Linked DNA regions of Homo sapiens: all the other regions are linked to region 1. The links come from fine-mapping of genetic effects on gene expression. A gene starts in region 1. Each other region holds a variant in brackets. All regions are shown on one strand. Distances are from middle to middle. Region 1 holds the start of SCPEP1 (serine carboxypeptidase 1). Region 2 overlaps COIL (coilin). Region 3 has its middle 39 kb from the start of AKAP1-DT. Region 4 overlaps ANKFN1 (ankyrin repeat and fibronectin type III domain containing 1). Region 5 overlaps SCPEP1 (serine carboxypeptidase 1). Region 6 overlaps DGKE (diacylglycerol kinase epsilon). Region 7 overlaps SCPEP1 (serine carboxypeptidase 1).

The links.
Region 2: its variant is fine-mapped to the expression of SCPEP1 in whole blood (TOPMed, PIP above 0.99).
Region 3: its variant is fine-mapped to the expression of SCPEP1 in monocytes after Pam3CSK4 (Quach 2016, PIP 0.95). The same link has a PIP of 0.9 or more in monocytes and monocytes after LPS.
Region 4: its variant is fine-mapped to the expression of SCPEP1 in spleen (GTEx, PIP 0.92).
Region 5: its variant is fine-mapped to the expression of SCPEP1 in blood mononuclear cells (TOPMed, PIP 0.98).
Region 6: its variant is fine-mapped to the expression of SCPEP1 in whole blood (INTERVAL, PIP above 0.99).
Region 7: its variant is fine-mapped to the expression of SCPEP1 in whole blood (TOPMed, PIP above 0.99). The same link has a PIP of 0.9 or more in monocytes.

Annotation. Positions count from the first base shown.
Region 1 is chr17:56,976,440-56,980,506 of GRCh38, reverse strand. SCPEP1 (serine carboxypeptidase 1) reads right to left here and starts at 2,376. Exons shown (of 13, transcript NM_021626.3): 1 at 2,272-2,376. The coding sequence starts at 2,347. RefSeq lists a silencer at 2,434-2,493.
Region 2 is chr17:56,947,970-56,952,036 of GRCh38, reverse strand. It overlaps COIL (coilin), which reads left to right. Exons shown (of 7, transcript NM_004645.3): 2 at 1,041-2,148; 3 at 2,270-2,356; 4 at 2,603-2,650. It also overlaps the pseudogene LOC100419768. Among named protein-coding and RNA genes, the nearest start is that of COIL, 11 kb to the left of the region's middle. The variant T/C (reference allele first, on the strand shown) is at 2,486.
Region 3 is chr17:57,044,245-57,048,311 of GRCh38, reverse strand. It overlaps the pseudogene RNF126P1. Among named protein-coding and RNA genes, the nearest start is that of AKAP1-DT, 39 kb to the left of the region's middle. RefSeq lists enhancers at 2,050-2,099, 1,337-2,264. The variant C/AGTCC (reference allele first, on the strand shown) is at 1,806.
Region 4 is chr17:56,234,380-56,238,446 of GRCh38, reverse strand. The region is part of intron 3 of ANKFN1 (ankyrin repeat and fibronectin type III domain containing 1); the gene reads right to left. Among named protein-coding and RNA genes, the nearest start is that of ANKFN1, 83 kb to the right of the region's middle. The variant AT/T (reference allele first, on the strand shown) is at 2,013.
Region 5 is chr17:56,997,218-57,001,284 of GRCh38, reverse strand. It overlaps SCPEP1 (serine carboxypeptidase 1), which reads right to left. Exons shown (of 13, transcript NM_021626.3): 10 at 2,787-2,900; 11 at 293-430. Among named protein-coding and RNA genes, the nearest start is that of SCPEP1, 21 kb to the right of the region's middle. The variant T/C (reference allele first, on the strand shown) is at 2,376.
Region 6 is chr17:56,868,686-56,872,752 of GRCh38, reverse strand. It overlaps DGKE (diacylglycerol kinase epsilon), which reads right to left. Exons shown (of 12, transcript NM_003647.3): 12 at 3,186-4,067. All of the region lies in intron 1 of LOC124904037 (a long non-coding RNA gene), which reads left to right. It also overlaps the pseudogene RNU6-1158P. Among named protein-coding and RNA genes, the nearest start is that of MIR3614, 21 kb to the left of the region's middle. The variant G/A (reference allele first, on the strand shown) is at 2,245.
Region 7 is chr17:57,003,680-57,007,746 of GRCh38, reverse strand. It overlaps SCPEP1 (serine carboxypeptidase 1), which reads right to left. Exons shown (of 13, transcript NM_021626.3): 13 at 979-1,574. The coding sequence ends at 1,512. Among named protein-coding and RNA genes, the nearest start is that of SCPEP1, 28 kb to the right of the region's middle. The variant A/C (reference allele first, on the strand shown) is at 2,276.

The sequences.
Region 1 (4,067 bases):
AAAACAAGAGAGATTTATATTTTGAGTAAAAAAGTAAAAATCTCAGAATGCAATATACTGGTTTTTATATCGTATTTAATACATGAGTAAGACACCAGGCTTGGTGGCTCACTCCTGTAATCCCAACACTTTGGAAGGCCAAGACAGGCTGATAGCTTGTGCATAGGAGTTCAAAACCAGTCTAAGCAACATAGCAACACCCCATCTCTACAAAAAATGCAAAAATTAGCTGGGCATTGTGGCATATGCCTGTGGTCCCAGCTACTCAGGAGACAGAGGTAGGAGAATCGCTTGAGCCCAGTAGGTTGAGGCTGCAGTGAGCTGTGATCACACCAGTGCACTCCAGCCTAGGTGACAGAGGGAGATCCTATCTCAAAAAAACAAAAAACCAACCAACCAAACAAACAAAAAACATGAGTGAAGAGGCATCACAAATTAGTGGGGCTGAGAATATTCAATATACAGTAATGGAGCAACAATTACCTTTTTTGGAGAAAAAAAGAGAAATTTAGGTCCTCTCAACACTATAAACGAAATAAGTTCCATGAGGATCAAGCAATTAAATTTTAAACTTTAAACATTAAAAAAATACAAAAATATAGTTAAATATATTTCTAATGTCTGGATGAGGAAAGAATCTAAGCAAACCCCAGAGACTGTACAAAAGAAACAATGATGGAGGTGAGAACAGAAACTTGTTATATTTCTATACAACAAAATTTCTGTAAATCAAAAATAAAAAGGCAAACAGCAAGGAAAGAGCTACAACAAATATGAAAAAGGGCAATTTTCCTAACTCATGTAGATGATTTTTTTAAACTGAACGATATATATCTGTGTATGTGTGTTTAATATACGTATCCTATAATCCCCTAACTCCAATTTTCCTTACTTAACTTTTCTAGCATCCACAAAATATGTTTTAGAAAAGAGTAGGCTAAATACATTTTCTTTGTCACTTTTTGCTAACGTAACAATTTCCAAGTTATAGCATCTTTTTTTTTTTCCTCCAAAACCACTCTGGGAAAAAAAAAAGTAGAGGGGCTGTTGTTAAAAGATGATGGGGGGGATCCCCTCGGTGACTGGAGTTTTCTGCCTTCTATTTCCTCCCTTCTCAAATTTCAAGCCCCATTGGTCAGTAAAAGAACACTGGTCCCAACAGCTAAAGAGACAGGAGTAGAGAGGAAGACAATGAGACAACGTCTTGTAAATAAGAAAGAGCCAGGGTGGTGGCCTGTGTCTGCAGTCCGGGCTACTTGGGATGCTGAAGTAGGAAGATCACTTGAGTCAGGCAGTTCCAGACCAGCCTGGGCAACATAGTGAGACCCTGACTCAAAACAAAACAACAATGAAGATTAAGAAAACCAGAAAGTGTCCTGAGGAGCAAAACAGATGACTAAAACATTACAGACTTAGCTATAAGGTTCTATATACAAGTAACACACGATTATATTGTCCTTGACAATAACAGATAAGGCTGCGCTCCCTTGAGAATGACAGATAAGGCGCAGGTACCTTTTGACCTAACCCCAGGCACTTCTCCCTTGCCTGGCAGTGACTACTGGTAAAATTGGCAGAGCTACTTATTTTACAAAATCTCCCAGACACTCGCCTAAGGGCCAGATGATCCCCATTTTAGAAAAGGAAAACAAAACTGTTCAACAACTTGCCTAAGGTCACAAGGCAAGCTTGTGGCCAGTTCCAATTCTCAGTGCTTGCTTCAGACTAGGAGAGGTTTTGCTGAAAATCAATTTGCAAGTCATCCTATTAAACACAAATCTGTTTTTTGCCAAAAAAGATCGCTGTGGGGGAAGATGTTATCTTGTTTGTTTTGATCAAGAAAAGAAAGGGCCTTATCTCAATGAAATGTCCCATTCGTGGTAGGATGTAAGGGTACTTTTGACCGCAGATTTCAGCTTAAAATAAAACGACCTTATATCCTCATTTAGCAGCCAATCATGGCCTTTGAATCGGGGAAACCTCATTGACCAGCAGTTTCCCCAAATCATACATTTCTGCACACAGCTTCTATCTAGGCGTAGGAGAGAACGGAAGCACTCAGACCACCCAGAGCCAGAAAAGGACAAAAAAAGCACTTTGAATTTTTTAAGGAAAAAAAAAAAAAAGAGTGAGATTCAAAAGCAATATAATTACACAAGGTAAGAACCGGGGAAAAGAGACATGTTTTCAAAAGCACAAACCCAGTAACAAACTCTCACGCCTGGAGAAAAAAGAGGCATGGCAGCTGGTGCGCCTCTTGCTTGAACCTACCTGCGTTCAGGCCCAGCAGCAGCGGCAGCAGCAGCAACCACCGCGGGACGGGAGAGCGCCGCAGTGCCAGCTCCATGACAAGTACCGCACGGCAGCATCAGCAACAGGCTGGACCCGGCGCCCCATCACGTGACGGAGGCGGACGGGGCGGGTCGGGGGCGGGGCCTGCGGGTCGGGGGCGGGGCCTGAATGGGCATGGGGCGGGGCCTGGGCGGACCCGGCAGCTTGCTGAGACCCGCACGCCCTCTGCCCGGCAAGCCCACCAGGACCCCTGCAAATGCGCAGGGGCCGTTCTGTCCGCCTGGCCAGGTTCTCTGTCATTTTAGGGAGAGTATTTCGGAAAGGAGACATTTGATGCAGATGTTGGATTTAGGTTGTGTGACCGGATCGAAATACTAAAGGGAATAACCACCGCCCTTTCTACCCCTCCCATCTCTTCCTTCCCTCAGCAAAAGAACCGACGTTTTCCAACACTGCTACATCTGCGAAGTCAGATTAAGCCAGCTGGTCGTTGGCAAACAGCGGGGTTTCATTTTCAGATATGTATTTTTTAAATTATTTTTCTTTTAAAGTTATGTATGTTATAAACGTTTTGGAAATATGAACAAAAAAGTTATACATAACTATTGTTGGCATTTTTTCCCATAGTCTTTTACGTCATTTTAAAAAACACTAATAAAGATTTTTATTTTTTTTTTCTTTTTTGATAATTTGTCATTAGTATTACTCTGTGTTACGTTATCTTCACAGCAGTCATTTTAAAGAGAGAATCGAGGGTCTGGGGACGGGAAAGGAAGAAAAAGTGGATGACAGAGCTGTTTTCCTCTGTGTGTGTGTGTGTGTGTGTGTGTGTGTCTGTCTGTCTGTCTGAAGGTCATTTTTACGTTAGAGGGTACTGAATAACTCACCTCACAGCTAGGAGACAAGCTACAGCAGGGGCTGTAGGAGAGGCTACTTCTAAATACTGCTTCAAAAGTACATGTAACAAAAAGCAAAAAACAAATCAAAGTACATGTGGCCACTTCTCCTCTTTCCCTGCTCCTTTCTCCCTCCCCTCGCCCTTGACCCCCATAAATGGAAGTGCTTTTTACTCTGCAGCCATTGTCTGGACAGAGCCTTGACCCCGCCCTGCCTGTGAGGTGCCCCTGCACTGAAAGCTGCGGCAGAGAAAAATATGCCGCCGGGTTCTGTCATGCTTTAAGCATGGGATGGTCCCGAATGCATAAAATCCATAATGCCTGGGCAACATATTGAGACCCCCTCTCTACAAAAAATAACAAAAATTAACTGATGTGGTGACACGCGCCTGCTGTCCAAGCTACTCAGAAGGCTGAGGTGGGAGGATCACTTGAGCCCAGGAGCTCCAGGCTGCAGTGAGCAGGTGTTCCATGCCATATGGGAGATACATAAAAGTACATGCTTAGTTAAAAATAAATAACTATCTAGCAAACTTTTCCTGTCTGAAGCTTCCAAGTTGGTCTGTATCACTAGGGCTTGAAATACACTTACCCTTCCACTGCAGTCAGAATTTTAGGGTTTCAATTTTTTTGCCACAAAAATAACACTACAGCCCAGGGCGCAAGGTGGCTCACACCTGTAATCCCAGCACTTTGGGAGGCCGAGGTGGGCAGATTACTTGAGGTCGGGGGTTTGAGACCAGCCTGGCCAACATAGTGAAACCCCATTTCTACAAAAATACAAAAATTAGCTGGGTGTGGTGGCACTTGCTTGTGGTCTTAACTACTCGGGAGGCTAAGGCATGAGAATCGCTTGAACCCAGGAGGTGGAGGTTGCAG
Region 2 (4,067 bases), 28 kb after region 1:
TTGAGGCCAGGAGTTCAAGATCAGCCTGGCCAACATGGCAAAACCCCATCTCTACTAAAAATACAAAAATTAGCGAGGCATAGTGGCAGGCGCCTGTAATTCCAGCTATTTGGGAGGCTGAGGCACGAGAATCTCTTGAACCTGGGAGGGAGAGGTTGTAGTGAACTGAGAAATGCACCAGTGCACTTTGGCCTGGGTGACGGAGTTGGGACTCCGTCTCAAAAAAAAAAAAAGAAAAGAAAAATAAAAATAAAAAAAAGAAAACGGACAGTTACTTTGGAGCTCGGCCTAATAAGAACCTGGCATTTACCTTGCTTTTCAGCTTTGTTGATGCTCTTGAGAGCATCAGCCAAGACATTCATGTGCACCACTGTGGTGGTATGGAAAGAGCCAGCGTAATTTTAACCAGATATCTGGACGTCCAATAGCCCGGACAAATTGATACATAAAATTAAGCTTCACAGAGTGTTGTGGAATTGTACAGATGGCTGTCACTACCCTAGAGAACATAAATTGTTTAGTATTCACCTAAATTAAAACAGGAGTAAAATCTTATTAAAGAAAGAAGCCCACATTCTGAAACAAAATGGATAATCAGCATTATCACCTTTTAGGGTAGGTGACATGCATATTGTAGAAAGATTGTGAGTTTGAAGTTAGACAAACTGAAGTTTGAATTGCGTTTCTGCTACTTATCAGCTCTAGATTTGGGGCAAGTAACTTGTCTGAGCTGTAATTTTGCGATCTGTAAAATTAAAAATACCTACTTTGTGTTGGTGTTTAGATTAGAGAAAAACGTATTAAAAATGTTTAGGATGCAGTAGCTATTCAATAAATAAAACTAGCCATTTGAAAGTTGACTGTGAGTAATGCTACATAGGCCATTTTGCCAGAAAGAGTCTTTTGTCTTTAAGTGATGTGACATTTTTTCATTGACTGATGGTAGTTACATTTTGTAGAGTCATCTCAGTATATAACTATGTCCTGGAGATGTGTTTATAAATTGCTCACTCTAGCTTTCTCTCTTGTTCTTTTGACAGAGTTAAATTAGAAGAGAGAGGAGTTGCTGAGAATTCTGTAGTCATCAGTAATGGTGACATTAATTTATCTCTTAGAAAAGCAAAGAAGCGGGCATTTCAGTTAGAGGAGGGTGAAGAAACTGAACCAGATTGCAAATATTCAAAGAAGCATTGGAAGAGTCGAGAGAACAATAACAATAATGAGAAGGTCTTGGATCTGGAACCAAAAGCTGTCACAGATCAGACTGTCAGCAAAAAAAACAAGAGAAAAAATAAAGCAACCTGTGGCACAGTGGGTGATGATAACGAAGAGGCCAAAAGAAAATCACCAAAGAAAAAGGAGAAATGTGAATATAAAAAAAAGGCTAAGAATCCCAAGTCTCCGAAAGTACAGGCAGTGAAAGACTGGGCCAATCAGAGATGTAGTTCTCCAAAAGGTTCTGCTAGAAACAGCCTTGTTAAAGCCAAAAGGAAAGGTAGTGTAAGCGTTTGCTCAAAAGAGAGTCCCAGTTCCTCCTCGGAGTCTGAATCTTGTGATGAATCTATCAGTGATGGTCCCAGCAAAGTCACTTTGGAGGCCAGAAATTCCTCAGAGAAATTACCAACTGAGTTATCAAAGGAAGAACCCTCTACCAAAAATACAACTGCAGACAAACTGGCTATAAAACTTGGCTTTAGCCTTACCCCCAGCAAGGGCAAGACCTCTGGAACAACATCTTCCAGTTCAGACTCTAGTGCAGAGTCAGACGACCAATGCTTGATGTCATCGAGCACCCCGGAGTGTGCTGCGGGTTTCTTAAAGACAGTAGGCCTTTTTGCAGGAAGAGGTCGTCCAGGCCCAGGGCTGTCATCACAGACTGCAGGTGCTGCTGGATGGAGGCGTTCTGGCTCAAATGGTGGTGGACAGGCTCCTGGTGCTTCTCCCAGTGTGTCTCTCCCTGCTAGTTTAGGAAGAGGATGGGGTAGAGAAGAGAACCTTTTTTCTTGGAAGGGAGCTAAGGGACGGGGCATGCGGGGGAGAGGTCGAGGACGAGGGCATCCTGTTTCCTGTGTTGTAAATAGAAGCACTGACAACCAGAGGCAACAGCAATTAAATGACGTGGTAAAAAATTCATCTACTATTATCCAGGTAAGTATTATTTTTTGTAAGTTATCTCCTCCCTTTCCCCTTAGAATGTGTGTGGAGTTCATGTCATGGATTCACATTTTCTCACCAGTGATGATGTCACATGACTAACACTGTTTTTCAGAATCCAGTAGAGACACCCAAGAAGGACTATAGTCTGTTACCACTGTTAGCAGCTGCCCCTCAAGTTGGAGAAAAGATTGCATTTAAGGTATATTTCAAAAGAACAGTCACAGCAAAAAAGGTTCATTCCCCTTCCAAATAAACTTACTTAGAAAATCAGGTTAAATGTGTTTGTAAAAGCCCTTCCCACTGGAACCCCAGTGTTGTTACGGGTTCC[T/C]GGTAGGGCTCCCAGACTGGTCGGGGTGGACACGCCAACATGGCATGATGGAGGAGCTGTGGGAATGGGAGAGGATAAGAGGGCTTATGTATTTGTGGGTTTTTTCTTCTTTTTTAGCTTTTGGAGCTAACATCCAGTTACTCTCCTGATGTCTCTGACTACAAGGTAAGGATGTTTATTTAAAAGTAAGTTGTCAGTGTATTATTAAAACTAAAGTCATATTTAATACTACTTGTATGGATAATACAGATTTGTTTTTTTACTAAATAAAAATGCCAGAAAGTAGAAAATGAAAACATTAATCGAAATGTCAACTCTTTAATAGTATCACTGGGAAGTCTCCCTGTGTTATTTGCCTTATACTTGGGAAGAATAGAGTAGGAGAATGATGAGCTTAATTTTTACTTTTTTAAAAAAAATATATTAATTTTTTGTTTTTAAATAGCGACAGGATCTTGCTATGTTGCCCAGGTTGGTCTCAAACTCCTTGGCTCAAGCAATCCCCCCATCTTGGCTTCCCAAAGTGTTGGGATTACAGGTGTGAGCCACTATGCCCAGCCAGTTTAATTTTTTTAGTTACTTTTTTCTAATTAGTTTAGACCAACTTATTTGGGTATTCATTCCTTCATGATTCTAAACTTTGAAAGAAAATAATAAATAGTTCTCAGCAAGAAGATTTGATTATTTTCATCATGGGAATCTATTTTACATATTTGTGAATTACTTCTGGTTGTTATGATCTAGTATGATTTCTTCTGCATTATCAGGTAACCACAGGTAATTCATAAATATTATCCGTGGAATTTACTTACTTAATATCTGTATGAGTCTTTATATTGGCATGTGAGGTTTTTCATAGTTCAGTAAAAGCTTGACTCAGTCAGAGGGATCACAGAATTACATGTTTCTTTTTCACCCACCAACATTTTGTTGAAAATCTTGTTAAAGTGCATTCTTTCTTTTTTTTGATGTACTATATGGAATGTAAGACCATTTTTTAAGGTAATAATTGGTAGTGTTAATATAGTAACATAGATAAAATACAAGGGAATTTGATTTAATCTGGATTGATGCCTTGGAAGACTTAAAATCTTTATAGAAACCTTTCCTCAAGGCTGGGCTTGGTGGCTCCCACCTGTAATCCCAGCACTTTGGGAGGCCAAGGTGGGTGGATCACGAGATCAGGAGATTGAGACCATCCTGGCTAACACAGTGAAACCCCGTCTCTAGTAAAAATACAAAAAAAAAAATTAGCGGGGCATGGTGGCGGGTGCCTGTAGTCCCAGCTACTCAGGAGGCTGAGGCAGGAGAATGGCGTGAACCCGGGAGGCAGAGCTTGCAGTTAGCTGAGATCACACCACTGCACTCCAGCCTGGGTAACAGAGCGAGACTCCATCTCAAAAAAAAAAAAAAAAAAAATCTTTCCTCAAAAGCAGGCTGGAAGAATCAGTTAATGAAGGGATCTGGTGGGTTAGTTCTAGGTCGTTGGTGTTTTGTTTTTTATCTTCTTAGGCACTTACTATCTCCTATGGATGAGGTGATCATGTAATTTATCACCTGAATCAGGATACTTGTGAGTCAA
Region 3 (4,067 bases), 68 kb before region 1:
ATCAGAGGGCTGAGCCACTGCTGAATGCCACCCTTTTAATAAACCCAGACATCTGAAATTTAACAGGTCAAAACCTGTTTCTCCTACAGTCTGTGTCACCTTGGTAGATAATTCCAAGCCAGAAAACAGGAAGCCATCAGTGATAGCTCCCTCTTATCCCTTACCTCCAATCCAACATCATGTCTTATTTATCTATTTGTTTTCCTTCAAAATGGCCTAAATCCCCTCACCCCTTTCCATCCTCGCTGGTACCACCCCAGCTTCTTCTCTTTCAAGAGCCTGTTCACTTGCTCTCCTCTAGTTTATTCTCCATGATACAGCCAGATAGCTCTTTTTAAAATGCAAACAATGATGAATTTCCACAATTCCCCATGCATTTGGAATAACGGCTATACTCTATCTGCGCAAGCTACCCCCAGCCCCTCTCCACAATCTGACCTGCACTCCCCAAACATCCCCTTCCAGGAGTCAATTTCTGTCTTGTCTTGTCTTATTCAGCGCTGGCCATAGGCATTCCCTGTGTCTGGAACTCTCTTCTACAAGCTGTGGCTGCAGGCTCCTTTTTCTCCTTCAGATCTGAACCTAAACATCACCTCCACATGGAAGCCTTTATTAAGCATCCTCTGAAATAGGTTCCACCACATAAAGCTTCCTTCTATTATTCGCAACCACAGTACCCACGTCATTTCCTTCTTTGCATGCACCCCTGTTGGTCAGGACACACTTATTGGTTTATTTGGAGGTTTCCCTCCATTTGTTGCAGTTTCTTTGAGTGCAGAGGGCTTATTCCTTGTGTTCATCCAGAGCCAATCCCAGTGCTGACCACAATACAGATTTCATAAATACAGTAAATCCAGTAGTTCCCCCTTACCCATGGGGGACATGTTCCTAAACCCCCAGTGGATGCCTAAAATCACAGATAGTACAAAACCTTTTTTTTTTTTAATCTTTGTAGGTAGTGTATTTTAAATAGCTTTCAAGACACACATATTTTTTCCTTTAAAAAAGTCTGTTGGTGGCCGGGCGCGGTGGCTCACGCCTGTAATCCCAGCACTTTGGGAGGCCAAGGCGGGCGGATCACGAGGTCAGGAGTTTGAGACCAGCCTGGGCAACATGGTGAAACCCCATCTCTACTAAAAACACAAAAAATTAGCCAGGCGTGGTGGCACACGCCTGTAATCCCAGCTACTCAGGAGGCTGAGGCAGAAGAATCGCTTGAACCCGGGAAGCGGAAGTTGCAGTGAGCCGCCGAGATTGTGCCACTGTACTCCAGCCTGGGCGACAGAGCTAGACTTCCTCAAAAAAAAAAAAAAAAAAAAAAAAAAAAAAAGTCCGTTGGAGCAGTTTTGTTCCTGAATTTTGCTGGTCATTCTCATGGTCCCGAGCCCCCAAACTCCAGGTCCTGGAGGCAGCCGAGGGGAAGGCTGGGAGCCCACGCGGCCTATTCTGACGGCGCTCGCAGCACTGGTGGAGCAGCGGTGCCCCGTCTTGCCACAGATCATGCATGGCCGCCATGTGAGCTAAAACTTCCATTTATTTCAAAGCAGTAATAATTTAAAATTCTAAAAATCTTTCCACCGCTGAACGTTTAGAGGGTGAGGTTAGACAAAAGACGGGGAGGCTGAAGGCGCCCCAGAGGGGACCATGTGGCCCACGCCTTCCCGAGCCAGGGAGCCGGTGGGCCGGTCCAGGATCCTGCCCTGGAACAGGCGGGGCCTGTAGCGCTGACCAGCCAAGACTGGCGCCTCTGGGGCACCCAGTCTGTGGGTGCCGTGCGGCCCTGGCTGAGGGTGGTTGGGAAAGTC[C/AGTCC]CCGCGGTTTCCCCGCAGCCTCAGGCGCAGCGGGCAGTGGTGGGTGCCGGCCCACGCGGGCTCAGGAGTTACTTGTGGCGTTCTCTTTACTGGGCGAGCTGGAGGAGGGGGAGGACGACGAGGAGGAGCAGTTCATCCCAGTCGGGCCCGGGGCGGGGGTGTTCGTGGCCGTGTTGTGTCCCGGGAGGCTTTTTCGGCAGACGGGGCAGCTGTCGTGCTGCTCCAGCCGGTGCACTATGCAGCCATCGTGGAACAGGTGGTTGCGGGGCAGCTGCTCGCCCAGCGCGTAGTCGTCCTTGCACACGGGGCACTCGAGCCCGGAGCCTACGTGCTCCTCGGTGACGGGGACGGTGGGGAGGTACTGGATTTTCTCTTCATCTGCCGGTGGGGGGCCCGTGTTTTCAAACTGATTGAGGAGCTGTGCGAAGGCGTCCAGGCCGTTGGCCACTCAGGCGTAATCCATAGGGTTTGAGTGCAGGACTCCCCAAGGACCCAGGCTGGGGATGGTGGCGGGCGTGATGATGCCGTTGACGAGCTGCTGGATGATCCCTTCTAGCGTGGGGAGGCCTTCGTGCCGGCCGGTGGCCCGCCGCGTGGGGAGGCGGAGGCGGGGCTGCCGGGCGCAGTACGGGGCCGGGACTGATGCTCTGTCTCCCACGGTCTCTCAGGGTCCTTGCTGCCGTCAGCCTGCGCCCCAGGAGAGAACGTGGGGATCTCGAAGCTGTCGTCAAAGATGCCGAAAGCAAACTGTCCGTAGCCCTGCGGCAGCGTGAACAGGTGCTGGTCCGCGTTCTCCAACGGCGGCCGGCTCTGGTCCGTGGGGGCAGTGGAAGGGGCAGAGCTGTTTTCTGTGCTCCTGGTCTCTTCAGGAAGCTCCTCGATAAAATCAGACGCACATCTTGGGCAGATATAATCCGATAGGCGCGGGACGGTGTCCAGGGAGCAGCAGTGGCAGAAGAACCGTCCTAGCTGCTGCGACGCCTCGGCCCTGGCCACCGCCCCCTACTCTGCGCCGCCCGCCCCCCGCGAGGCGCCAACCGCCGGCCATTTGCTGCTCCCTCGCTGATCGACGCCCAAACCTTTTATATACTATGTTTTTCCTACCTACATATCTATGATCGAGTTTAATTTACAAAATAGGCGCTTACTAAGGAAGCGATTAACAACAATAACGAATAATAAACACAACAATTGAGTCAAATAAGGGTTACTTGAACACAAGCACTGCAATACCATGGATTGGTCTGATAACTAACAGCTACTAAGAGACTAATGGGCAAGTAGCATCTACAGTTCAGATACACTGAACAGCCGGAGGATTCACAGGCCGGGAGGGGTGAAGCAAGACGGTGTGAGATTTCATCACGCCACTCAGAATGGCAAGCAACTGAAAACATGAATTATTTCTGGAATTTTCAGTTTAATATTTTTGGACTACAGTTGACCGCAGGTAACTGAAACCGTGGATAAGGGGGTACTACTGAATGTGTATTTTGAATTTTCTAGCTAAGAATATCGCCTTTTTTTTTTTTTTTTTGAGATGGAGTCTTACGCTGTCGCCCAGGCTGGAGTGCAATGCCACGATCTTGGCTCACTGCAACCTCTGCCTCCCGGGTTCAAGTGATTCTCCTGCCTCAGCCTCCGGAGTAGCTGGGATTACAGGCACCCACCACCACACCCAGCTAATTTTTGTATTTTTAGTAGAGACGGGGTTTCACTATGTTAGCCAGGCTGTTCTCCAACTCCTGACCTCAGGTGATCCGTCCGCCTTGGCCTCCCAAAGTGCTGGGATTATAGGCATAAACCACCGCCCCCGGCCAGAATATCACTTTTTTACAACTTTTTTTTTTTTTTAATTTTGAGACAGAGGTTCTTTTCGTCGCCCAGGTTGGACTGCAGTGGCGCCATCACAGGTCACTGCAACCTCTGCCTCCTAGGCTCAAGCAATCATCCTGCCTCAGCATCCCTAATAGCTGGGACGACAGGTGCCCGCAACCATGCCTGACTAATTTTGTGTTTTTTGTAGAGAAGTGTTTCACCATGCTGCCTAGGCTTGTCTTGAACTCCTGGGCTCAAGTGATTCACTTGCCTCAGCCTTTCAAAGTGCCAGGATTACAGGCATGAGCCACATGGCCAAGAATATCACTTTTACCTTTAACAGATATTTTTCTTTTTCTTTTTCTTTTTTTTTTTTTTTGGAGACAGGGTCTCACTCTGTTGCCTGGGCTGGAGTGCAGTGGCATGAACAAGGCTCACTGCAGC
Region 4 (4,067 bases), 740 kb after region 1:
AAGCAAGTTCTTAGAGACTTAGTCTACAAAGAGACTTAGATTCGCACACAATAATAGTGGGAAACTCCAACACTCCACTGACAGTATTTTTGAGGACAGATCATTGAGGCAGAAAATTGACAAAAATGTTCAGGACCTGAACTCAACATTGGACCAAATGGATCTGATAGACCTCAACAGAACTCTGTCCCCAACAACAGAATATACATTCTCCTCATTACCACATGGCACATACTTTAAAATCGACCACACAATTAGACATAAAACAATGAGCATATGCAAAAGAACTGAAATCATATCAAACATACTCTTGGACCACAGCACAGTAAAAATAGAAGTCAAGACTACAAAAATTGCTCAAAGTCATGCAATTACATGGAAATTAAACAACATGCTCCTGTATGACTTTTGGGTAAGTAATGAAATTAAGGCAGATACCAAGAAGTTCTTTGAAACTAATGAGAACAATGATAAAACATACCAGAATCTCTGGGACACAGTTCAATCAGCCTTCAGTGGGAAATTTATAGCACTAAACTCCCACATCAAAAAGTTAGAAAGATTTCAAATTAACAACCTAACATCACAACAGAACGAATTAGAGAAGCAAGAGAAAGCCAACACCAAAGCTAGCAGAAGACAAGAAATAACCAAAATCAGAGCTGAACTGAAAGAAATTGAGACACAAAAAAAAACCATTCCAAAAGATCCAGGAGTTGGTTTGTTATAAAAATTAATGATATATAAGCTACTAGCTAGACTAATGAAGAAGAAAAGAGAGAAGATCCAAATAAACACAATTAGAAATGACAAAGAGGATGTTACCACTGACCCCAGAGAAATAAAAATAACTATCGGAAACTACCATGAATACCTGTATGCACAGAAACTAGAAAACCTAGAAGAGATGGATAAATTCCTGACATATACACCCTCCCAAGACTGAACCAGGAAGAAATTGATTCCCTGAACAGACCAATAATGAGCTCCAAAATTGAATCAGTAATAAATAGCCTACCGATTAAAGAAAGGGCAGGACTAGATGAATTCACAGCAGAATTCTACCAGATGTACAAAGAGATGTAAAAGATGTGGGTGTTTAGAGCTGGTACAATTCCTACTGAAACTGTTCCAAAAATTGAAGAGGGAACTAATTCTTCCCCACCTCATTCTATGAGGCCAGCATCATCCTGATACTAAAACTTGGTAGAGACACAACAACAACAAAAACTTCAGGCCAATATCCTTTATGAACATTGATGCAAACGTCCTTAATAGAATACTTGCAAACCAAATCCAGCAGCATATTAAAAAGCTAACCCACAACAATCAAGTAGGCTTCATCCCTGGTATGCAAGGTTGGCTCGACATATGTAAATTAATAAATGGTATTCATCACATAAACAGAACTAAAGACAAAAACAACATGATTATCTCAATAGATGCAGAAATGGCTTTCAATAAAATTCAACATCAGTTCATGTTGAAAACTCTCAGTGAAGGAACATAGCTCAAAATAGTAAGAGCCATCCATGACAAACCCACAGAGAACATCATACTTAAAGGGCAAAAGCTGGAAGCATTTCCCTTGAAAACTGGCACAAGTCAAGGATGCCCTCTCTCACTCCTCATAGTCAATGTATTAGGTTGGTGCAAAAGTAATTGCAGTTTTTGCCATTATAGTAAATGTAAAAGCCACAGTTACTTTTGCACCAACCTAATAGTATTGGAAGTCCTGGCCAGAGCAATCAGGCAACAGAAAGAAATAAAGGGCATCCAAATAGGAGGAGAGGAAGTCAAACTACCCTTGTTTGCAGACCACCTGATTCCGTATCTAGAAAACCCCATAGTCTTGGCCTAAAAACTCCTTCAGCTAATAAACAACTTCGGCAAAGTTTCAGGATACAAAATTATGTTCAAAAACCACTAGTATTCCTATACACCAACAACAGACAAGCCAAGATTCAAATCAGGAATGCAATCCCATTCACAATTGCCACGAAAAGAATAAA[AT/T]ATCTAGGAATACAGCTAACTAGGGAGGTGAAAGATATCTACAATGAGAACTACAAAGCATTGTTCAAAGAAATCAGGGCCAGGCGCGGTGGCTCACTCCTGTAATCCCAGTACTTTAGGAGGCCGAGGCAGGCAGATCATGAGGTCAGGAGTTCGAGACCATCCTGGCTAACATGGTGAAACCACGTCTCTACTAAAAATACAAAAAAGTAGCCGGGGGTGGTCGCACATGCCTGTAGTCCCAGCTACTCAGGAGGCTGGGGCAGAAGAATCGCTTGAACCTGGGAGGCAGAGGTTGCAGTGAGCCAAGATCATGCCACTGCACTCCAGCCTGGGTGACAGAGTGAGACTCCATCTCAAAAAAAAGAAAGAAAGAAAGAAAAGAAAAGAAAAGAAAAAGAAATCAGAGATGACACAAATAAATGGAAAAACATTCCATGCTCATGGATCATGGATAGGAAGAATCAATATGATTAAAATGGCCATACTGCCTAAAGTGATTTGCAGATTCAGTGCTATTTTTATCCAACTACCAAAGACATTTTTCACAGAATTAGAAAAAATGATTTCAAAATTCATATGGAACCAAAAAAGAGTCTGAATAGCTACAGCAATCCTAAGCAGAAAGAACAAAGCTGGAGTCATCACCTTAGCCAACTTCAAACTATAATACAGGGCTGCGGTAACCAAAATAGCATGGTACTGGCACAAAAATAGACACATAGGCCAATGGAACAGAATAAGGAGCCTAGAAATAAGGCTGCACACCTACAACCATCTGATCTTTGACAAAGCTGACAAAAACCGTCAGTGAGGAAAGGACTCCCTTTTCAAGAAATGGTGCTGGGGTAACAGGCTAGCCATATGCAGAAGATTGAAACGGGACCCTTTCCTTACACCATGTACAAAAATCAACTAAAGATAGATTAAAGAATTAAATGTAAAACCCAAAACTATAAAAACTCTGGAAGACAACCTAGGCAATACCATTGTGGACATAGGAATGGACAAAAATGGCCTGATGAAGATGCCAAAAGTAATTGCAACGCAAGCAAAAGTTGACAAATGGGATCTAATCAAATGTAAAAGCTTCTGCACAGCAAAAGAAACTATGAACAGAATAAACAGACAATCTACAGCATGGGAGAAAATATTTGCCACCTATGCATCTCGCAAAGGTCTAATATCCAGCATCTGTAAGGAACTTAAACAAGTTTATAAGAAACAACAACAACAACAAACATTAAAAAGTGGGCAATGGACATGAACAGACACTGCAAAAGAAGACATACATGTGGCTGACAGGCATATGAAAAAAAGTCAAATATCACCGAACATTAGAGAAATGCAAATGAAAACCACTGTGAGATACCATCTCATACCAGTCAGAATGGCTGTTAATAAAAAGTAAAAAAATAACAGATCCTGGCAAGGTTGCAGAGAAGAGGGAACACTTAGACACTCTTGGTGGGACTGTAAATTAATTCAACCATTATGGAAAGCAGTGTGGTGATTCCTCAAGGAGCTAAAAACAGGACTACCATTCAACGCAGCAATCCCAATACTGGGTACATACCCAGAGGAATGTAAATCAGTCTACCATAAAGACACATGTATGTGAATGTTCATTGCAACACCTGTCACAATAGTAATTATATGGAATCAACCTAAATGCCCATGAATGACAGATTGGATAAAGAAAATGTGGTACATATATACCATGGAATACTATGCAGCCATAAAAAAGAATGAGATGATGTCTTTTGTGGGAACATGGATGGAGCTGAAGATTATTATCCTTAGCAGACTAATGCAGGAACAGAAAACCAAATACTGCATGTTCTCACTTATTAGTAGCAGCTAAATGATGAGAACTTATGGACACAAAGAGGGGAACAACAGACACCGGGACCTACTTGAGGGTGGAGGGTGGGAGGAAGAAAAGGATCAGAAAAAATAACTATTGGGTACTAGTCTTAGTACCTGGGTGATAAAATAATCTGTACAACAAATTCCTGTAACATAATTTTACCTATATAACAAACCTGCACATG
Region 5 (4,067 bases), 21 kb before region 1:
CAATAACCAGGAAAATGTCTAAGTTTTGTGGTAGAGACAGGTGGTGTTCTTTTCTTTAATCATACCTAAGGGCCCCCAAACCCAGGTAGGCTCAGGCTTCTGAGGGGTCACAGCCACGTGCAGCTCCCCACCCTTTGAATAATCAAGGTCGGGGTAGACGGATGTAATGGGAAATGGCCTTCCACCTGGCATTTCAACATCACCCACCGCAAGACTGACATGTCCAAGGCCAGTTCCCTTCCAGTTGAACCCATAAAACTGCCTCTAGGTGCCTCTCAGAGTCAATTCCTACCCATGGTATCTACGATGAGATCCAGCTGTCCATTATACACCGTCACGTTGATCCCTGCCTCCAGCAACTCGTCCACAATGCTAATGACTGGCTTCATGAAGTCCTCCTCCATGTTCACAAAGACGTTGGTAGCCTGGCCTGCACATGGGGAAGGAGAAAGAGGGAGTAGCTTGGAATCTGCCAAAACAGGAGGTACCTTTCAGCCCAGAGCATCTTGGGCTCCAGCACCGAACAACGACTGAATGCACAGATGCTTCACAAACAGGGATGAACCAGCCCAGAAATTTGTGCCGACTGGTCAGGTGTAAGGCACACATAAATAGCACATGTGGTCCATTCTCTTGAGAGCTTGTGATGACAGCAGGCACCATTTTTAATGAGGAATTGACACCTGGAATAGGCTACTGTCCAAGGAAACAGGGAGGGAGAGGCCCAGGAAATACTCATTAGGCTGGTACACTCAGGGAATAAATTGTGCTTTGGGCCAATGTCAGTTTTCCTGTTTTTTTGAGTAACACCAGGGCCAAGTTTCAAGTTCTGAACAGGTAGGCCTACCTTATAATAAACCAGATCAAACCTAAACCAATTCAGAGCTGGCCCTCAGGAAAGCCAAATGAATAACAAGCCCCAGGCAAGAGAGGAGCTAGTACTCTTGCTAGCTCCTGCCCATCAGCATTATCCTAACACTGAATGACAGCAATAAGAGTGGCAGCCACCATTATTTGCTAGTCACTGCCAAGGAGGCATCTGACAAGCAACATCCCATTTTCTTCTTCATTACCTTGGGAGATAAGAAGTCTTCTTTTAAAAAAATTTAATTTTTATTTATTTATTTACTTATTTGAGACAGAGTCTCACCCTGTCACCCAGGCTGGAGAGCGGGGGCACAATCTCAGCTCACTGCAGCCTCTACCTCCCAGGCTTAAGCGATCCTCCCACCTCAGCCTCCCAAGTAGCTGAGACTACAGATGCACACCACCACGCCCAGCTCTTTTTTTTTTTTTTTTTTTTAGACAGAGTTTCACTCTTATTGCCCAGGCTGGAGTGCAATGGCACAATCTTGGCTCACCGCAATCTCTGCCTCTCGGGTTCAAGCGATTCCCCCACCTCAGCCTCCCAAGTAGCTGGGATTACAGGCATGTGCCACCTCACCCAGCTAATTTTGTATTTTTAGTAGAGACAGGGTTTCTCCATGTTGGTCAGGCTGGTCTCGAACTCCCGACCTCAGGTGATCCGCCCACCTTGGCATCCCAAAATGCTGGGATTACAGGCGTGAGCCACCACACCCGGCCACACCCAGCTCTTTTCATTTGAGCTAATTTTTCTTCATTTCTAAAATTCTCCCAGCACTCAGGAGTAATGAAAAAACCAGGGATGGAATGAGACCTCTGGTGACTGCAGGTTGGGAGAGGAGGGCCCATGTCCCCTGAGAAAGCTCCCAGCAGCAGCAAATCGTAGGCTCCCAGCAGCAGCCGCAGGACCACTGACCCCATATCCTTGGGGTATCTTGAACACACATGAAACAAAACCCTCTTAGGTTTGGAGTATTTTCCCTTCAGAAACCTGAGATCTCTGCTTGCTCAAGGCCTCCCTATAGGACTAAAGTAGGAACTTAACCAAGATTTCTACCTGGCCCTGGTCTCTAAGGATTTCATTATTTCCTCACCATGGCCTTGAGACCAGAACGCAGTAATGCCTGGCCATATCCAGCATCAGGATGCCTGGGGAGGTCAGCAAGAGAGAGCTGGTCAAAATCTGCCCGAGCACCTGGGTGTCTCTGACATCCTGCAAGGACCTTTGGCGCGAAATCTCATCTGCAACCAACTGTGGCCTTCGATGTAGCTTTTTTATCTTAATTTTTTATTATGGAAAATTTCAAATGGATAGAAAGGAGAAGCATACAATGCTCCGATGTACCCATACCAGGCTTCAACAATTATTAACTCACAACCAATTACACATTATTTCCCTCCCCACTCAGCTCCCTACCAACTCCTTATTTTGAATCAATTTTGATGTCTTTTTTTTCCCCTTTTTAAGAAACAGGGTTTCTCTCTGCTGCCCAGGCTGGAGAGCAGTGGCA[T/C]AATCATAGCTCACTGTACCCTCAAACTCCTGGGTTCAAGCAATCCTCCCACCTCAGCCTCCCAAGTAGTTAGAACTATATGCCACATGCCACCATGCCCAGCTAATTTTTCTATTTTTTTAAAGAGATGGGGCTTTACTATGTTGCTTAATTGTGGCCTCAAGCAATCCTCTCAACTCAGTCTCCCACAGTGGTGGGATTATAGGCGTGAGCCACTGCATCCAGCCCTGACAAGTCATTTACTGTCTCTGTATCTATTTGCTCACCTACAAAACGTGGATAGTAATATTGTTTACCTATAACCTATCATCACCAACAACAAAACCCACCCTACAAATTCAGGTCTCTGAATTTGCACCTCTTTTCTCCCCATAACTGTACAAACGGCACTTAATTAGGTCATATAAGTACCTCCCCAGGATTGATCCTCAGGAATAATTTTGAGCTTCTTTCTGATGGGGCCATTCATGAGCTGGCTTAAGGCATCTCGTTGTAGGTGTCTCACGTGGCGCTGACAAAGACAAACTAAAACCAAACTGGTAGATAGTGAGTCAAAGGGCTGGAAGTAAGGCCAAGAGGACATCTTTTTTTTTTTTTTTTGAGACAGAATCTCTCTCTGTCTCCAGGCTGGAGTGCAGTGGCACGATCTCGGCTCACTGAAACCTCCGCCTCCTGGGTTCAAGCGATTTTCCTGCCTCAGCCTCCCGAGTAGCTGGAACTACAGGCACCCGCCACCATGCCCAGCTCATTTTTGTATTTTTAGTAGAGACAGGGTTTCACCATGTTGGCCAGGATGGTCTCGATCTCTTGTCCTCATGATCCACCCGCCTCAGCCTCCCAAGTGGTGGGATTACAGGTGTGAGCCACCACGCCTGGCCATGAGGACATCTTTACCAAGCTGCTGGGGATGCTGCACAGCAAGAGGGAGGGTTTCAGATTCAGCTGGAAAAGGAAAAGCGTCACCTTGATTCACCCCCAGCGGGAGGAAGGAAGTCAGAAACACATTGAAAGTGGAGAGGCTTTATTATTAGGTTGGTGCACAAGTAACTGCGGTTTTTGCCATTAAAAGTAATGGCAGAATTTCTCAAATTCAATGGCACTCTGGCCTGGGCAACAGAGTGAAACCTTATCTCTTAAAAAAAAAAAGGGAAAAAATAGATTTGTCAAAATTGGTTCAAAATAAGGGGTTGGTAGGGAACTGGGTGGGAAGGGAAATAATGCTTCATTAGTTGTGAGTTAATAATTCTTGAAACCTGTCAAAAACCACAGTTACTTTTGCACCAACCTAATAGTATTGATTATACATTCTATAGACTTGGGGGCCATTGGGATTCTCCAGAACGGCCAAAGAGAATCATCTAGAAAGTGGAACCTAGGGTATCCTGCAGCCTTTATATGCTTCTTGGTTGGCTGAAAGATGACTAAATTCAGTCTTGAACTGATGTTGTAATTTGGTGTATGGAAGCTGGTTTCTAAACTTCAAAAACATCATGCTATGTGACAGAAGCCAGTGCAAAAGACTAACTATTGTGCGATTGTATTTATATAAAATGTTCAGAAAAGGAAAATCTAGAGAGACAGAAGGCAGATGAGTGGTTGCCTGTGGCTGGGAGTGGGAATGAGAACTGTCTGCAAGCAGACACGTGGGATCTCCTTGGGGTGACAGAAATGCTCCATAACTGGATTGTAGTG
Region 6 (4,067 bases), 110 kb after region 1:
CAGTTGTCTGAGGGCTTTATTGGTCCAGAGTCCATTGCCATTACCTAAATCATGGTCAAGATTTAGTATCAGTTTGAAGGTCATGGCTCCTTTCACCAGCCTGATAATGGGAGGCCCACCCTGACCACCTTATTTAATCCTGATTATCTCCCAAAGGCCCTAATCAACTTGTGGATCGTTCATCTTTTTTTTTTTTTTTTTTTGTGAGATGGAGTTTTGCTCTTGTTGCCCAGCTTGGAGTGCAATGGCATGATCTCGGCTCACTGAAACCTCTGCCTCCCAAATTCAAGCGATTTCTCCTGCTTCAGCCTCCCAAGTAGCTGGGATTACAGGCAACTGCCACCATGCCCAGCTAATTTTTTTGTATTTTTAGTAGAGATGGGGTTTCACCATGTTGGCCAGGCTGGTCTCACACTCACAACCTCAGGTGATCCACTCGCCTTGGCCTCCCAAAGTGCTGGGATTACAGGCATGAGCCACCACGCCCAGCCGGATTGTTCATCTTGTATGACAAATATATAAAGGTTTTTCCACCTAAATGATCAGAATGTTTTGGCTATGTCCTACCTAAAATGACCAGATGACTCTAAATGTTAGTCAAATTCTGAACCTCAGGTCACTTGTACATAAAGTGAGCCCTCAGAAATGAGCCTCCTGAGTGATCTCCAGACTCAATCATACAAGGGTTACAGATTTCACTCTTTTGTAAGAGCTCTTTTTCCTCAGCTGGGAGCCTCTGAATTGAAAAAATTGCTTGTTAGTATTTCAGCAACTCTTGAAAAAAGTTTTAGTGATACTTACGAATTTTCTTCAAGCAGTACAATATGAGATGAATAATTTCACCTCAGCAGTACCCCAAAGTAGGAGTTACTGACACTTCAGCTGCTCAGCAGGGAGAAGCTTACGGTGTTTTTATGTTAACAAAACATTAAGTGTTTGTTATATTTGATATTGTTGCCCAAAATGTAAAAGTTCCTAAAGAACACAAGGTTTTCATCTCATTAGCACTGCCTCCCTTGATTTATTCAGTTGGTTAAATCTTGGCTCCTGGGAATCTTTACTCAGGGTTTTCAATCCTTTGCTATTATTCTTCTTGTAGTTATTGTGTTTACCCATACACAGTGGGTACCCATACACAATGGCTTACCCAACACAGTGCATTGTATTTTCTCAATAATTTTTAAAATTTATTTTTGAGCGACAGTGTCGTGCTCTTTGACCCAGGCAGGAGTACAGTGGTGCAATGCTACCTCACTGTAGCCTGGAACTCCTGGACAAAAGTGATCCTCCCACCTCCGTCTCCTGAGTAGCTGGGACTACAGGTGTGCATCACCACACTCAGCTAATTTTTTTTTTTCCAATTTAGAAAGTTTATTTTGCCAAGATTAAGGACATGCATGGGCACGGGACACAGCCTCAGGAGGTCCCTGATGACATGTACTCAAGGTGATCAGGATTCAGCTTGCTTTTATATGTAAAAATATGGAACATTTCATGAATTTGCATGTCATCCTTGTTCAGGGGCCATGCTAACCTTCTCTGTATTGTTCCAATTTTAGTATATGTGCTGCTGTAGTGAGCACTACCCAGCTAATTTGTATTTTTTTGAGATGAGGTCTCAGTCTGTCACCCAGGATGGAGTGCTGTGGCGCAATCTCGGCTCACTGCAACCTCTGCCTCTCAGGCTCAAGTGACCCTCCTCCATCAGCCTCCCGAGCAGCTGGGACCAGAGGTGTGTGCCACCACGCCCGGCTAATTTTTTGTATTTTTGGTAGAGATGGGGTTTCAATATGTTGCTTAGGTTGGTCTCGAACTCCTGAGCTCTAGCAATCCACCTGCCTTGGCCTCCCACAATTCTGGGATTACAGGTGTAAGCCTCCATACCCAGCCCTGCCCAGCTAATTAAAAAAAAATTTTTTTTTTTTTGTAGACATGGGGTCTTGTTACATTGTCTAGCTGGTCTTGAACTCCTGCTCAAGCAATTCCCCTACTCTGGCCTCCAAAGTTCTGAGATTACAGGTGTTATTCACAGAGGCTGGTCCTTTCAAGGATGTTTAAGTGCTTTCCAGTAGTCACTCATATGTCAAAAGATTGCCGTAAGGATCAGACAACTGGAGGAAACCAGCATGGACTATGTCATTCCCGAGGGTGACTCTGAGCCCTAGGGCAGCTATTGATAAACATCTGACTCTTCTTCCTAGACTATGTCAATAGTGGTAACTGAGAGTAATGCTATGCCATTTG[G/A]TCACACTCTCAGCTTGCGGACGGGGTGACTAAAAGTGGGGAACTGTCAAAGCAAAATTAAAATGGAAACTAGGCTTGAAACATTCCTGAGCAAACAAACCAACTAGGCCTTAAAAATAGCCCTAACCTACTTAAACTGTAAACATAAATGAAACTTAACTTGGGTCATTTTTGGTAAATGCTTATGTTAGATACAAAACTTAACCTCAGCCAATCATAAGCAGCCAACTAACATGATCATGAGACTGGGGACTTTCCAAGAAAGTAAGCCAAAAAAGGCAACCAATCAAATCATTTCTTAATTTTGCTTCTGTATGCACTCTATGAATACTTGCCTCTGATGTTGTGTCATTGAAACACTAAATCCTCATTGGGTTTGGGGTTTCCCAAGTCACGAATTGCTTCTTAAGTACATTCTAAAATTTTATTGTGCCTGCTTTTTTTTCTTTTACAATAGTCCATGTGTAATACTTTTAGCTCATCATCTCCAAACTCCTTCCATGAGTAACTTTTTGGTATATGATGTTTCCTTGTACAGGGAATTCCTCAGACAGCCGCATAAGCCCTAGTCCTAGTGCTCAGAACAATGACACGTCTGCCAATATTTAACACTTTTAAAATACTGTTGGTGGTGGTTGTGTTGATGATGAAAGGCAGTGGGGAGGATGGCCTGGGTTCAATCTCTAGCTCCGGGCTATCAATGTATATAACATGGAGCCAATAATGTCTACCTCACAGAAATACAGATTATAAAATAAAAAGTAAAAGCATGTGACACCTAACTGTACAATAAATGTGTGAAGCTGTTTAAGTCCAAACATGGATCATTACATGTAAGATGGCCTATGTGTGAACATCAGCAGCTATCACAGCCACGTTCACATATATGTAAATTATCAAGGGGCATTACGCTTGGCACTGTTTAAAAGAAAGCAGGCAAGTGATCAAGTGAATTTTTATTACAAAAATTTTATAAAAATGGATTTCCAGGTAAAGATGGCAGAATAAAGCAGGACTACAGAATATTCTTCCTCTAATGCCTAATAAAATGAATAAAAGATGTTACATGCCACAGTACATTTTTCAGATCGTTACTGATAAATCAGAAAGCTTTATGAAAATCCAGATGGAAGGAAACACACAGTTCTGCCATGCATATTAAGATGCATTCACTCTCCTGCCCTAATAATTATCATATAACCTTATGGTAGACGATAGTCAATTAGTTGCCAACCAATACTTAAAAATTAGATTTCATATACTCTAAACTTCTGTCTTTTCTAGAAAAATAAATTGTTTACACTAGGCCTGCTTCCCAGGAATCATGTGCTCCAGTTTACCGAAGTCTCTACAACTCTTACCTTCGTTGCTTGCCCAGCTCCTGTAAGCACTTGCAACCCGTAGGTGGGCATTAATTCCCATTCTTACAGAGAAAGAAAATTTGAGGCTCAGGAAGAACAAGTGTTAAGTTACAGTAGTAGAGGCTGGGTTTCCATTCAGGTATTTCAAATAAGTGATACATTTTTCCATACTCTACCAACTGAAAATAAGGTGAATTCACCTTTGATCCCACTTACTGCTCTACTCTGCCAGGAGCCAGTTTATATGCGTGAGAATGAATGTTTCTCCTAACACACGTGTATGATTCTGTGCTCTTAGGCTACAAAAGCCATGCAATATGAATTTTTTATTCTTTCTGTCTAAAAGTATGTGATCAGAACTTGCCACATATATGTTTGCCCTGCTGTAGACCAAGAACCACTTTTTGGGACACTAAGTCAAAGCTGCTTATTGTATCTCATGGTTGTGTCAAAAAACTACAC
Region 7 (4,067 bases), 27 kb before region 1:
CCCGAAGTGCTGGGATTACAGGCTGGAGCCACCGTGCCTGGCTGTTTTTTTAAATCTCAGCCTTTGGCCAGGCTTGGTGACTCATGCCTGTAATCCCAGCACTTTGGGAGCCCAAGGCAGGTGGATTGCTAGAGCCTGGGAGTTCGAGACCAGCCTGGGCCACATAGTGAGACTCCAACTCTACGAAAAAATTTTAAAAATTAGCTGGATGTGATGGTGCTTGCCTGTGGTACTAGCTACTTGGGAGGCTGGGGCAGGAGGATCATTTGAGGCATGATTGTGCCACTGCACTCTAGCCTGGGTCACAGAGTCTCAATAAATAAATAAATAAAATCTCAGCCCTGCAACTACAAGAGGTGATATTTCTTTCAGACAGTCCTAGAAGCTGTTAGATCCCCTATGCAGATTTTTTTTTCTTTTTGAGATGGGGTCTCTGTCACCCAGGCTGGAGTGAGTGGCTTGATCATGGCTCACTGCAACATCAACCTCCCTGGCTCAAGTGATCCTCCTGCCTCAGCCTCCTGAGTAGCTGGGACTACAGGTGTGTGCCACCATGCTCGGCTAATGTTTTTATTTTTTTTGTAGAAATGGGGTCTCCCTATGTTGCCCAGGCTGTTGTTGAACTCCTGGGCTCAAGCATTCCTCCTGCCTCGACCTCCCAAAGTGCTGGGTTTATAGGTGTGAGCCACGGCATCAAACCTCCTTATGTAGATCTTGAGCTATGAATAAAAAGTTAAAAGTCCTGAGCTAATTATTTTGATTTTAAGGAAATGTGGCAATCCTCTGACTAAATAATTACACTTTTATGAATTTATTCTAAGAAAATAAGGAGGTACAAAAAAATCTAACTATCAGGGTGAATCAACAGAGCACTATGTATAATAGCAACAAACTAGAAATTATTATACTTGTCGGAAACAACTGGGAATTTTGTAAATAAACTAGAGTACAACCATAAAGTAGAATGCTCCACAGCCATTAAAAATGTTAGAGAAGAACATTTATTGACATGAAAAGGTGTTTCAGATATACTGATATGTCAAACAAATAGTAAAACAACATAGAGTAATGATTCATTTTGGTAAAAAATATATATGTATATATAGAAAAAAAAATTCTGCAAGGACATATGCTAAATTGGTAACAGTGCTTACCCCTGGGAAGGGGGTATACAGATGTTGATTTACTCTTTGGGTACCTGTATTTCCCAGTTTTTCTATAAATCACATCATTTGCTTCTGTCATAAGAAAAAATAATATCTATTATCATCCTTTATTTTGATCAAAACAAATCAATTTTTTAAAAAATCTTAGGTTTTTTTAAGAAGCAGAAATAATTTCCAAATTGCCTCCAGAGACAATGATTTTATCCTCTGCAGAAGCTGGTCAGAACCTTCTTGATCACAGCCCCAGTTAGATACAGGGAAGAATGGCGCTTCCTACAGCTTCAGCGGCCTCAGCTCAGCTCTGTGCCCCAAGGCCAAACCAGCTCATCTCCAGCCCCATCCATCCTATTCTTGCTGAGTCACCAGTCTCATCATCTTCAGAGCCATGTCCCCTTGGTCAGAAGGAACCTAGAAAAAAACAACATCTGAGTTAGTGCTCCTGGTGCTATTCCTGGGGCTGGGGTCAGAGGCAACATCCTGAAACCTTGCTCCCAAAAGGGAGCCAGCTCTGTGACAGCAACCTGTGCAGACACCTGGGCACATCCCTGAGAGAGGGTCCTTCCTGAAAATGACTCCTGCACTGGATGAAAGCTCTTCTGGGCCCTGACTGGGCTGGGTGGCAGGGACCTGGAGAAGTCAGCATTTAAGACAAGAACCTTCTACTCCATTTGGAGCTGATCTGTTGATTTCTTGGTAAGGGTCATGCTAATGATACTAGACCTAGCCTGTTCAAGGAAGAAGGAAGATTCTAAACATTTTAAAGGCATCTGTCTAGAAGGGATCCCGGATTGAGAATAGAGAAATGGCTGAGAAGGGAGCTCACAGCAGAGAGCCGCAAATAATAAAAACAAACAGGGCCCTTTGGGTGGCATCCGATTTTCGCAGTTATTCAACTTTCTTTTGTTTTCCCTCAGATTTTTAGAATAAGTCCTTTAAAATTTCCTTCCCACACAGCATCAAAAGGGGGAAGGGCAGAGGCCTCAGTTTCTCCCTACACAGAAGGGGTTGGAGTATATGGTCTCCCCGTTATGTAATTCCCTGGCTCCATGATTCTCTATGGCACACCCATCCTTGACTCTTCTGCCAAGAGTCCCCAGGAGGCACAGGCA[A/C]GGTGGGTTATCCTAAAATGTCATTTAATCAATGAAAGGGGAAGTGGTTTGGGGACGACTTAACAACAGTCTCCAAGGGCTATTTTAAGCCTGTCCCCAACTGATCTGTTGTTCTATATGTGACAAACCAACAGGAAATGGGCCTGAACTCTAGTATACAGAGCGCGTGGTTGGCTTGTTCCATGCCTTCCTACCAGCCTCGTCAGGGACTTCTCTCTAGGGCAGGCTGAGCATCCCTCATTGGAAAATCCAAAATGCTCCACAATTCCAGCCTTTTTGAGTGCCACCATGAGGCCACAAGTGGAACATTTCACACCTGCCCCATGGGCGGCTGCATTCAAAATGCAGGCGCACAACACACAGTTTATTTCTGCATCCCCAAGGGGGTTACAGTACAGTAACCTTTTAATCAAAACACAGCATTGTAGGTAGAGACCGAAAGCTGCTGTTGCTTGCTGTTGCTGTTGTCTAGCAGCTGACACAGGTATTCTGGTCATGCTACTGTGCTGCTCAGTTACTCTGAACACACAACTTTTCCACTGTATTAATGGTATGTTGTATTTCTTACTGTGAAGTACTTATGTGTGACTACATGCAAGAAAAAGATTGCTTATCGGCAGCATATAAATTTGGAGTCAGAAATGATATGATGCCTAACAACCACAGATTGGTTGAAGAGCCATGGGTGGCTGAAATAGCCACCCTTTGCTCTCTAATAACTCAGTGCACACAAACTTTGCTTCATGCACAAAATTATTTAAAATATTGTACGAAAGTACCTTCGGTCTATGTGTATAAGGTGTATATGAAACATAAATGAATTCCATTGCCTAGACTTGGGTCCCATCCCCAAGATATCTCATTATGGATATGCAAATATTCCAAAATAAAAAAAAAATTAAAAATCTGAAACATTTCTGGTTCCAAACATCTCAGATAAGGGGTACTCAACCTGTAACAGTGCTTGCTCTAAGACGTTCTAATTTTCTTTCTTTTAGTCAATATTGAAGGTACTCAGATCCTGAGAGCCATAAATAATGCCCTCTCCCTCTGTGCCCTGCTGCCTTGTTTGTTCTCCCTTTAGATTAAGTCTATTTGTTTATTTATTGATTTACTTTTTGAGACAGAGTCTCACTCTGTCACCCAAGCTTTCAGGCTCAATCAATCCTCCCACCTCACTCAGCCTCCAGAGCAGCTGAGACCACAGGCAGGCGCCACCGCGCCCAGTTGATTTTTGTTCTTTTTTGAGACAGAGTCTCACTCTGTTGCCCAGGCTGGAGTGCAGTGGCGCTATCTCGCCAGCTGGATGCAATGGCACTATCTTGGCTCACTGCAACCTCTGCCTCCCAGGTTCAAGCGATTCTCCTGCCTCAGCCTCCTGAGTAGCTGGGATTACAGGTGCCCACCATCATGCCCAGCTAATTTTTGTATTTTTAGTAAAGATAGGGTTTCTCCATGTTAGCCAAGCTGGTCTCATACTCCTGACCTCAGGTGATCCACCTGCCTTCGCCTCCCAAAATGCTGGGATTACAGGTGTCAGCCACCATACCCAGCCTAGATTAAGTGTCTTTTGAGAGTGGGCTGCTTTCTCTGGCTTCTTAAAGGAAGCTACTGTCTCTTCTCCTCACTACTCATTCATTTTCTCCAGTCTTTCCAATCTGGCTTCTGAGCTTGCCACCTCACCAAAATATCTCACCAACGCAGGTGCCAAGGACATCGGTGTAAGCACATCATCACTCACGTTTCAGCCCTTCCCCTGAGTTCTCACTTAGCACTGCGGGCCCCTCCCTGC